3 linked regions of the Homo sapiens genome follow. The protein of the gene in region 1 binds, or shares a complex with, the protein of each later gene. Each region holds a gene or a part of one and is shown in the gene's direction. Other genes may lie near its edges. The genes, in order: SF3B3, SF3A2 and HTATSF1.

Region 1 (3,650 bases):
GTGTAATTTAAATTTTCTAGTAGCCACGAACAGGAAAAAAGTAATTTTAATGTTTTTTTTTTTTCTTTAAAAAAAAATAGAGATAGGGTCTCGCTGTGTTGCTCAGACTGGTCTTGAACTCCTGGCCTCAAGTGGTCCTCCTACATTGGCCTCCAAAAGTGCTGGTGGGAATGCAGGCATGAACCACCGTGCCTGGCCAGTTTTAATGTTTTATTAACTCTGTATATCTGAAATCATTCTAACATGTAGTTAATATAAAAATTGCTGAGCTATTTCACCTTTTTTTCTCTCTTTTTTAAACCAAGTCTGAAATCTGGTATTGGCACTTTACACTTAGCAGTCTTAGTTCTCTTTAAAATTTTATTTGTCTTTATTTAAAAAAAATTTCTTCCTTGACACAGAGTCTTGCTCTGTTGCCCAGGCTGGAGTGCAGTGGTGTGATCTCAGCTCACTGCAGCCTCTGCCTCCTGGGTTCAAGCGATTCTCATGCCTCAGCCTCCTGAGTAGCTGGGTTTATGGTGTGCACCACTACGCCCGGCTAATTTTTCTTGTTTCTAGTAGAGATGGGGTTTTGCCATGTTGCTCAGGCTGGTCTTGAACTCCTGAGCTCAAGCGATCCACCCGCCTTGGCCTCCCAAAGGGCTGGGATTACAGGTGTGAGACACCATGCCTGGTCCTGTCTCAGTTCTGACTAGCCACATGTGGCTTGGGGTAGCTATAGTATCGGATATTGCAGAAGAAGAAGTTGGTTAGATTCAGATTTAATTATTGGGGGAGGGGGACAGGAATACTTAATAGGTGGTGCTGTTTACTCCTGTTGCATCACGTCAGGAGGAGTGTAGTGTCTGGTTGTCCCACTCACAGTGATGTTGGGATGTTTGTCTGTATCTGTGTTAAAGTTCCCGTCAACCCTTTACTTACAGCTATTACACACATTGCCTAGGTTCATTCTTTCATTAGTGGTTGGAAAATGATTTATTTCTTTTTGGATTTAATTAGTTGGAATTCTAAAGACAAAATTCGCATCATTTCTTTGCTTACTATAAGTACGGTTCATACAGGAAAAGGATAAATAATTTTTTTCCCATTGTTCACCTGTTTTCAGAGTAAGGAGTGAGGGCCACAGCACTCCTTTCAGTGGGGCCCAGTAAAGTGGGTTTTTTGCTGTTTTTTAGAGTAACATTGGTCAGGTGCTGTGGCTCACACCTGTAATCCCAGCGCTTTGCGAGGCTGAGGTGGGTGGATTGCTTGAGCTCAGGAGTTCGAGACTAGCCTGGGCAACATGGCGAAACCTCATTTCCACCAAAAATACAAAAAATAGTTGGGAATGGTGGCTCATGCCTGTAGTCCCAGCTACTTGGGAAGCTGAAGTGGGAGGATTGCTTGAGCCTGGGAGGTGGAGGCTGCAGTGAGCCAAGATTGTGGCACTGTACTCCAGCCTGGGTGACAGAGTGAGAACCTGTCTCAATAAATAAATAAATAAAAATTTAAAAAAATAGAGTAACATCATAAACTTGTGGATTTTTATACATTTGTGCTGAAAACTCCTTTTTTTTTTTTTAAACAGAGACAGAGTCTCGCTATGTTGGCCAGGTTGGTCTTTAGCTCTTGGCCTCAAGCAGTCGTCCTTCCTTGGCTTCCACAGTGCTGTGATTACAGATGTGAGCCACCTCACCTGGCTTCTTTTTTTTTGAGGGGTGCGGGGGGGTGGTAAATTGACTCATTCTAGAAAAGTGGGAATTTCTATTTGAAGTTAGTTCTTTTGTCCTTTTAACATGACCCCACTATTTGTAGGGGTTTCCTTGCCTTGTTGCACAATAAAGTATCCCCACATGTGTCTGGAACATTCTTGCCCCTGCCCCAAACTAGTCATTCCTTTTAGGAACCTTGTTCCTTTAAGAGGAAATGCTGTTTAGGGACCATGGTCTTTGTGGTTATTTAATTATTTATTTGAAATATACAGTAGTGAAGAAGGATTTAATATACTTGGTAAAAAGAAATATTAAGAAGATATAGTGAAAAATAAGTGTGTATTTACTTAGTAGATGCTCCATAACTTTGGATGATTAAGTGATTTACTGAGAGAATGAAATGAATGGCTATCGGATTATTAGGATCTTTTTTAAACACCCAAGTCATTTCTTTCTATCTGCTCTAATTTCTTATGTGAAGTACCCAAGGGAGAGGTTTTCCCATCATAGCTGATAAGCTTCCATCAGGCTTCACCTGCTCCTCTCCTTTTGATTAGAACGGTGTGCTGCTGAGGACTGTCTTGGACCCTGTCACTGGGGATTTGTCTGATACTCGCACTCGGTACCTGGGGTCCCGTCCTGTGAAGCTCTTCCGAGTCCGAATGCAAGGCCAGGAGGCAGTAAGTAATGAAGGTTGGGGACAGGCAACATCTTTGGGATTTTAGTGGCACCATCTGAGAACAATCTTTGCTGTAAGCTTCACTGTCACTAATTTGCCACTCCATCTTGATTGGTTTCCTTCATGTGAGAAGTCCTGAGTTTTCCTAACCTAGAGCTTCCTCACTGGGGCTCCATCGCACCATGTCATGATTTGGTTATAGCTGGGTAGAGATATCGATCCCTTTAGCCCTCTGGCTGGTCAAATAGGGCTGGAAACCTCCCCTCTAGGACACCACTAGCCATGAGAATTCTCAGGTTTTATCCCAGTCTTAGATCAGTGTCACGTTTACTACCTAATGTGAAAGAGACTGGGAAACATTGTGTCCTTTGTAGTTAAGAATGTTAGTGTTTCTGGGCACTGTGCTAATTGATTCCATTTAATTCTGTTTTTTGTTGTTTTTTTTTTTGAGATGGAGTCTCACTCTGTCGCCCAGGCTGGAATGTAGTGGTGCAAGCTTGGCTCACTGCAACCTCCGCCTCCTGGGTTCAACCAATTGTCTTTCCTCAGCCTCCCGATTAGCTGGGATTACAGGCGCATGCCACCACGCCCAGCTAATTTTTGTATTTTTAGTAGAGATGAGGTTTCACTATGTTGGCCAGGTTGGCCTCGAACTCCTGACTTCAGGTGATCCGCCTGCCGTGGCCTCCCAAAGTGCTGGGATTACAGGCATGAGCCACCGCACCTGGCCTTCATTCCATTTAATTCTTGCAGCTGTCCAGCCTTGTGGTACTGTTTTCATTTTACACACGTGGAAGCAGGCTTAGAGAGATGAAATGGTGAGTCTAGATCATATGGCTCGTAGCCCATGCTTTTCACATATGCTAAGCCATAGTGCCTCTCTCTAGCCCTCTTTTTCTTAAGATAGCCTGTTATATTTCTAGAATATCTTAGGATACTCTGCAGACTGAAATTTGGGGATAGGGCTTTTGGTCAGCTTATACCATATTTGTATTTTTTCCCAAACCTTATTGGAGCTGGGTTTTTTTTTTCCCCTCAGGTATTGGCCATGTCAAGCCGCTCATGGTTGAGCTATTCTTACCAATCTCGCTTCCATCTCACCCCACTGTCTTACGAGACACTGGAATTTGCATCGGGTTTTGCCTCGGAACAGTGTCCCGAGGGCATTGTGGCCATCTCCACCAACACCCTACGGTGAGTGAGTCTCATGTTTGAAGCTCAGCAGGAAGCCTTTCTGCCAAGGGCTCAGACTGGTTCTGCCAGAGTGTTGGAGGAGGCTG
Region 2 (3,650 bases), on another chromosome or scaffold:
TTTTTTGTTTGGATCGTCCTGTCTGTATTTTTCAAGGGCTTTTTGTTTTAATTCAGCTTGTCATTCAGCTTCCTGTTCTGGGTTTGTGGTGCAGTGGCTTCCCCCGATAATGAAGGAGGGTGTCAGCGATCTCTTACTGGGATACCCATCAGTCTCTTTGTTCTCGGATGCGTGTGTTTCTCTTTAAGAACAAAGCGGCCGGCAGCTCTGTGTGAGCGCCACTTCTCATCCAGGGAGGTCAACTGCCCAGTGGCCTGGCAAGGAGCGGGCCTTTTCTTTGAGGTGTGGGGACCCTGAATGTCAGTATTTGAGAACTCTTCCTCTGGCGCTGTTTCCCCGGAAAAGACTCCTGGCCTCCCCCGGGGTGGGGGGCGTCCGTGCTGGGCCGCCTGCCACCTGAGCTGTGCGGAGGAACCGCCAGACTTCCCGCTGCCCAGGCGGCAGGTCGTGATTCAGTCCCCCCTTTTCAGCCTGACCCTGGACCCCCTTGCTCTGCTGGGCCTGTCTCTCTAACTCTAGAGGCCCTTTTATACCAGTTCTTCTGGGAATAAAGTTCTGATCTCCTCGAGGGTTGTGGGCGATCCGAGCGTGGGACCTTCCCCGGGGTGCCGCCCCATTTCAGCTGCTGAGGAGGGACAGTGTGGGTGTTCGGTGGCTGCGATGGCTTGGGTTCGGATGGTTTCTGGTTTTCGGATCAGAGCTTTACTTGGTGAGTGGTTGAGTATTGGTCTGGGTTTAGGTTTCAGTGGGCCAGACTCCACAGGTGCTCCCTGTGACAGCTGGAGCTTGTGTCCTGAGCCAGCCACTGGCCGCTGGGGCGTTCTGTCTGGCCAGTTTTAAGAAGTAACTTGGCTTGCCCTAGATGGATTTGAACTCTTGGCTTTGTTAGCATTTTGCCATCTAAGTTCCTTCTCCAAGTCCTCCCAGCCATCGTGTCATTAGAACGTTCTGGAAATGTCACTAAAATGTGCCCGGAAATAAGTGCATCAAGATAGATTGGTGGCTCTTGGTGTGGCCATCTGCACCTGTCCTGGCCCCAGAAGCTGTGCTGCCTCTTCCGCATGGAGGAGCAAAGCGCAGGTCGCTCCTGAGGCTGAGCTCCGCTCCTCCTGGGCCCTGGGTCCTCCGCAGACACGTCCCACCCACTGCTCTTCTCTCTGCCAGAAGCTGCCGGCCATGAGGACGCATGGGTGGGCGCTGTGGAGAGTGCAGGCTTGGGGGTAGAGACCAGTGATGGCTCTGCAGAGCTTAGCCTCAGAGTAGGGGCGTGGTCCAGGAGAGGCCACGACAGGGACAAGCAGGGCGTTCGCATGCTGTTGAATTCCTTCATGACGAAAGGAGCAGGTCGTCCTCCCGGGAGAGGGGAGCGCTTGATGACGCCCCGAGATCTGTGTGTGGGAGTGCCTCTCAGCACCAGGCCCCTCCTGGGTTCTTGGAGTGCATCCGTGAAAGAAGGCCGATTCCCTGCCTTCTCACACGTTCCCCCGAGCGAGGGCTTGGTTCGGTGCTGAGATGCGTGGAGGACTGTGGTTTCTGTGATGTGTGGAGAGGCAAGTGCGGCTGCGGCCTGGTGGGAGGCTGCTTGCTGGGCTCCCCACGCACGTCCCCTGATGTGAGTTTCATGTCACTTGACCAGGAAATGCTTGAATGTCCTCCAGAGAAAAATGAGGCACTTCATGAACCTGTCCGGGCGGCACCCACACAATCCTGCCCGCCTGTGGGCCGTCCGGAGACAGAACCTCCCAGGCAGCTGTAAGCTGTTGTGGCAGCAGGGACTGTAGGAGTTGGCGTGGCCTGCAGCTGACGGCGCCAGCATGGAGAGGGTGCAGTTCTCCCTGGTCCTGAAGAATGTGTGGCCAAGAAGCCCGAGGCGGGGAGGGTTCCTTGGGGCCAGAGGGTGGCGTTCCCAGCAAAGGACAGTCCTTCTGGTGTCACAGTCTCCTTTTTCACACTGGAATGTTCTTTGTTTTGTGAAGGGATGGCGATGGTCACAGTGGTGGTTTCTCGAAGTTTACGTGACAACATGTAAAAATGGGCATCTCTAGGTGGGCTTTTGTGACATCTGAACTTCTGATGGGGCAGCCGTGATACTGCAGTGAGCTGGGAGGTCCACCTCACCAGTTACCATGCTTGATCATTTTCATAAACTTGCCCAGGGAATAAAAACTGGTTGGGGAGGGCTCCTGGGCCCCCATAGAGTAAGGGGTGACTTCAGGCCCCACCACAAGTCAGCAGTACAGCTGGCCTGTCCCTCAGCATGCCCCTGCACACCTGCGGCCACTGTGGCCTGTCCCTCAGCGTGCCCCTGCACACCTGCCGCCACTGTGGCCTGTCCCTCAGCGTGCCCCTGCACACCTGCGGCCACTGTGCCCTGTCCCTCAGCGTGCCCCTGCACACCTGCAGACACTGTGACACATCACTGCAGACGCAGTAGTTCAGATGACACGGCTGTATCAGCTTCTGGTTCTGGGGTCAGAGTCCAAACAGTCCACAGGGCTCCATTCCTTCTGGAGGCTCTGGGGGACAACTCGTTTCCTGCCTTTCCCAGTGTCCAGAGGCACCTGTGTGCCTTGCCTCGGGGCCCCTTCCTCCCCATTCACAGCCACAGCGCAGCCTCTCTGACTCTCAGCCTCCCGCCTCCTCTCATGAGGTCACCCAGGATCACCTGCCATTTTAAGATCCTCAAGCCCACCTGCACATCCCTTTTCTGCCATGAGGGGACATGTTCACAGGTCCCAGGGATTAGGATGTGGACATCTTTTGGGGGCAGTGATTCACTCAGTCTCATGGGCCCCATCTCTCTGAGCTCACCCAAGACCCTTAAACCAGGGCCCGGGGCCAACATTGAGCAGGCAAGGGAAAGACTACCAGGAGATGAGAGGAGGCTGCCTGGAACTCAGATTTGCACAGAGCCTGAAAGGGCGTGGGAGACCTTGGCAGAGGCCTGCATCAGGAAGAGGATGTTGGGGACTCAGCAGAGCCCCCTGCGCCACAAGCAGATGTGGCAGATCTCCCAGGTGTTACTCAGTGAGGATGCGAAGATCAGTGTCCTCACTGATCTCCGCCTAACAAATTTACATCGAGCCCAAGAGATTAGGTTGGGACAAGTAAGCGTAGCCAACCAGAGAGGGAATTCAGAGGAAGGCGTGAACACTAGGGGCTTGGGCAGTCCGGGATGGCTTCCTGGAGGTGGTGACTCGTTTGTGAGATCTTGGTCTTGTCTTCCCTTTATGCCTTCTCTGGGCTCCCTATTACAATTTCAGGTCTCCAGGCCTTGGCACCCTGGGCTGGAGCGGCTTCCTCTCCATCCCTCATGCCTGGTCACTTGGAGACAGGCTCCAGCTTCCTTGTGTCTGTGCCTGTCCACAGTGGGCCTCAGCCTCCTGGAAGAGACTGGGTGCGCTATGGGGTGGCCCCCTCAGGGCTGGTTAGACCCTGGCGCTGGGAGTGCAGGGTGAGGGGCAGTCTCGAGGGCTCCAGCCCAGCCCGCCCAGGGAGGTCCCAGCAGCAGCCCCGAGTTCTGAGCCATCTTCCTCACTCTCCTCTTGGCCTCCACAGGTGTCTCCCAGTCTGCTAAAGCCCTAAGGCCATCACCATGGACTTCCAGCATCGCCCCGGGGGCAAGACCGGGAGCGGGGGCGTGGCCTCCT
Region 3 (3,650 bases), on another chromosome or scaffold:
CTTGAACTCCTGGCCTCAAGTGATCCGCCCGCCTCGGCCTCCCAAAGTGCTGGGATTATAGGTATGAGCCACCGCACACGGCCCCCTGCCCATTATTTTTATTTCAGAAAGTTTTCTGACTGGAACTATGACTGAAATACAGTTTGTTGTTGTAAAATCCAGTAATTATCTTTATTAAATACTCAGTAAAGTATTGTATGAACAACTCATTCTTTTCTCTCTCCAACAAGTCTGAAGCAAAATTTACAGTTTGTTGTTACTGCTTCATTGCCTCAGGCAGTTGGATTGGAGACCTGAGAGGCGAGCCGGACCATCCCGGATGCGCCATGAGCGAGTTGTCATCATCAAGAATATGTTTCATCCTATGGATTTTGAGGTAGGAAGTGGTGTGCTTACTGATAGAAATGCTGATAGGCTTTTTTTCTCTCAAGGGAGCCTGGAGCTTGCCTCGCCTCATCTTTGTCTTGTCACCTCCTACGTGTTTGTGCAGCGAGTAGTAAAGGAAGATGGAGCCAAGAAGCTACTTAAGTCTTTTGATTTCCCTTCCCTTTGTTTAGCCCAGTATTGTTTTAAAGTGTATCACAGATAAGACTGTTTAATAACCATACTGCGCCCCAAGCAGCAGCTACTTGGTATGGGAAACCATTGAAAAATATCATCATCAAAAGATTTATGGGAACTGCTTGTGGATTTTCAGTGCAAGCCAACAAGTATGGCCTGATTTTGGTGGGGAGTACCAGCTTCACAATTGTAAATGCAAACTTCAGTTTGGTACTAAAAGTTATAATATTTAATGTCCGTGGAAAATTCCAAGAACAGCAAGTAAAAGTGAATAAGTACATCTGTTATGTATCAACTTTTTTAAGTGATTTTAAAAAAAGTTAATGGAACTGTCCTTCCTCCCCTCAAAAAAGTGAATAAAGGAGAAGCAAAGAACAAGGAGTTCTGAGGAATATTGTCATCAAAGTACCTTGTGTTACATTCTGCCTGTATTCTTATCTCTGTCTACTGGTGTAGACTGACTTTATTGTTGTGGAGAAACAACTCTTTATTCTCTCCCTGGTTCTGAAATTAGTGATAGCAAGTTATACAGAAAGCAGGTTATACAGATAGCAAGTTATACAGAGAAAAATGTTCATAACGTAAAATTCCGTTTTTACCAATAATCTAGTTGTAAATTAGTGCCCATTCCTGACCCTTTTGTGCATTTAAACAGTCAAAATGGTAATATAATTGTAGCTCCCTTAGAGAGGGCCCCAAAATGGACAGTTCAGCTCTATCTCAATGAATAGTGTTGTGATAAGGTTTACTGTGTACCTATGGAGTTTGGGCATCTTTTGAGGTCATTGGAAATATACGTCTGGTTTATTTATGAGATTGATTGATATCTCTTCTGACTAGAAATCTGGAAGAATTTTGAAATATAACAGTTTACAGTTTTACAGTTGCAGTGATAATGAAGTATGGTTTATAAACACGTGCACACCAGATGCATTTTGAAATACTGTTTTTGCCAGCAATAACTTTAAAATGAATGCATAGAATTACAAAAATATTAGCTGGGCATGGTGGCGCATACCTGTAATCCCAGCTACTCAGGAGGCTGATTCAGGAGAATCACCTGAACCCGGTAGGCAGAGGTTATGGTAAGATCGCGCCACTGCACTCCAGCCTGGGCAACGGAGCGAGACTCCATCTCAAAACAAAACAAAATAAAACAAAACAAAGAACCAGATCATAGTCATTAAAGCAGCATATAAAATAAATGCACAGATTGATCACAATATTTAGTCTGCTAAATACAACTCCGGGATTTCCTATTATTTATTACATTTTATCCCCCTGCTAAATAAGTGATTTATTAGGTGACATATTTATTTCTGTGACTCGAGGTCTTTGATTCACACATTTCATACTCCTGCCACCCAAGTGTGAATGTAAATGCAAACCTAATTCAAACTATCTGGAACCTCTGCAAGTAGAAGTCTGTTGTGTAATTTTAATCTATTCTTGTTTCTACCTCCTGCCTTGCTCATTGAAATACCTTATTTGAGTCTAAGGATCACCCCAGGCAGACTTAGCTCTTCCCAGCTTAACAAATATTCTTTCCCCAAAACCACATTTATTCTACCTTGACCCCTATACATTCCCTCCAGTGAATATTTTTAAAGATAGAAGTTTCATGCTTGCAAATTCCTGATTTTTTTTTTAATCTTCTTGGTTTAGTATAAACATTACTTTGGAGTTACAGAGCCTTTATACTACCCTATTTTGTTTCCTTCATAGCATTTATTATTATCTGAAGTAATTTTGACTCGTCTACTAGAATGTGAGCTCCATGACACCCAGTATTTTGTCTACCTTGTTTGCTGCTGTATTCTCAGTACATAGAATTTGCCTGGCACACAGTTGGCCCTTAATATTTATGTGATGAAGAATTGAAAGAATTGCTAAATGAAACCCTTGTTATTTACAAGCCAGAGTCTTTTCATTCAGCCAGTGGATAAAACATTTTCTCTTCAGCATCTTTGCAAATGAAAGCAAATTTTCTTCTTAGATGCTTATTCCACAAAGGATGGTGGGACATTGTCTTGGCCGTGGCGGAATTAGTTCACAAAGAAATGCTTGGTGATGCTATCCTTGTTTGCCCACCTTCCTGGCCTCACATGGTCCAACTAGCTTGCTGAGAGCGTGTCAACAAGAAGAGTGACAAATAATCTTGCTTTTGTTCACTGTCTCTGAGCACCTGAACCTCAGTGTAGACCTGTGCTGTCAGATATGGTAGACTGTAGCCATGTGTGGTTAAATGTAAGTTAATTAAAATGAAATAAAATTCAGTTCATCGCTTCTACTAGGCACATGTAGCTAGTAGCTACCATATTGGATAATGCAGATATACAACATTTTCATTATCACAGAACCTTCTATTGGACAACACTGGTATAGACATTATATAACTTTTGATAGAAGTGTCCAACAGGAAAACCTGCTTTTATTGCATGTTTTGGGGGAGTGTTTGATTTGACTCAAGACTCCATATGAACCTAAAGAACACACAGCAGCATTGAGCTTTTTAGTGGAAAACAAAAACTGAATTGTCAGGTTATCCTGAGATATCTGAAAGGAGTCAGATTTTGGGTGGAGGGGTATATTTTGATTCCAAACAGTTAGAAGCAACATACCTAAGAATACTGTCTGATCTGAAGGCTAACATTTTTAATGTAACTTCAGAGGGTCTTCAGTATTTAATTCAAATCCTTACTTTAAAATGCATTGCCTGGCAAATTTGAATACCAGGACATGAAGAGTCAAAACTCAAATGCATTAGCCGGGCATGATAGCACGCACCTGTAATCCCAGCTACTTGGAAGGCTGAGGCACGAGGATCACTTGAATCCGGGAGGCAGAGGCTGCAGTGAGCCAAGATCGCGCCACTGCACTCCAGCCTGGGCAACAGAGTAAGACTCTGTCTTCAAAAAAAAAAAAGAAAGAAAGCAAAGCACTGAGACATTGGTGTAGAAATGGAGGTGATGCCTACCCCCACCATGGAATCACGCTTCAATTTAAAAGTTGTTAAACATGTTGACACAGTTTTTTTTTTGTTTTTGATATAATCCTGATTTTCCTTGGTGAATAAAAGAGAGGTATTA

The links.
Region 2: SF3B3 (region 1) and SF3A2 share a complex: the UniProt entries of both Homo sapiens proteins name them as parts of the 17S U2 SnRNP complex.
Region 3: SF3B3 (region 1) and HTATSF1 share a complex: the UniProt entries of both Homo sapiens proteins name them as parts of the 17S U2 SnRNP complex.

What each region holds. Positions count from the first base shown.
Region 1 is NC_000016.10:70,558,221-70,561,870, forward strand, and holds part of SF3B3 (splicing factor 3B subunit 3), read left to right. Parts: intron 1-2,248; coding exon 2,249-2,371; intron 2,372-3,409; coding exon 3,410-3,564; intron 3,565-3,650. UniProt on the Homo sapiens protein: Component of the 17S U2 SnRNP complex of the spliceosome, a large ribonucleoprotein complex that removes introns from transcribed pre-mRNAs.
Region 2 is NC_000019.10:2,239,824-2,243,473, forward strand, and holds part of SF3A2 (splicing factor 3A subunit 2), read left to right. Parts: intron 1-3,558; 5' UTR 3,559-3,595; coding exon 3,596-3,650. UniProt on the Homo sapiens protein: Component of the 17S U2 SnRNP complex of the spliceosome, a large ribonucleoprotein complex that removes introns from transcribed pre-mRNAs.
Region 3 is NC_000023.11:136,504,088-136,507,737, forward strand, and holds part of HTATSF1 (17S U2 SnRNP complex component HTATSF1), read left to right. Parts: intron 1-276; coding exon 277-376; intron 377-3,650. UniProt on the Homo sapiens protein: Component of the 17S U2 SnRNP complex of the spliceosome, a large ribonucleoprotein complex that removes introns from transcribed pre-mRNAs.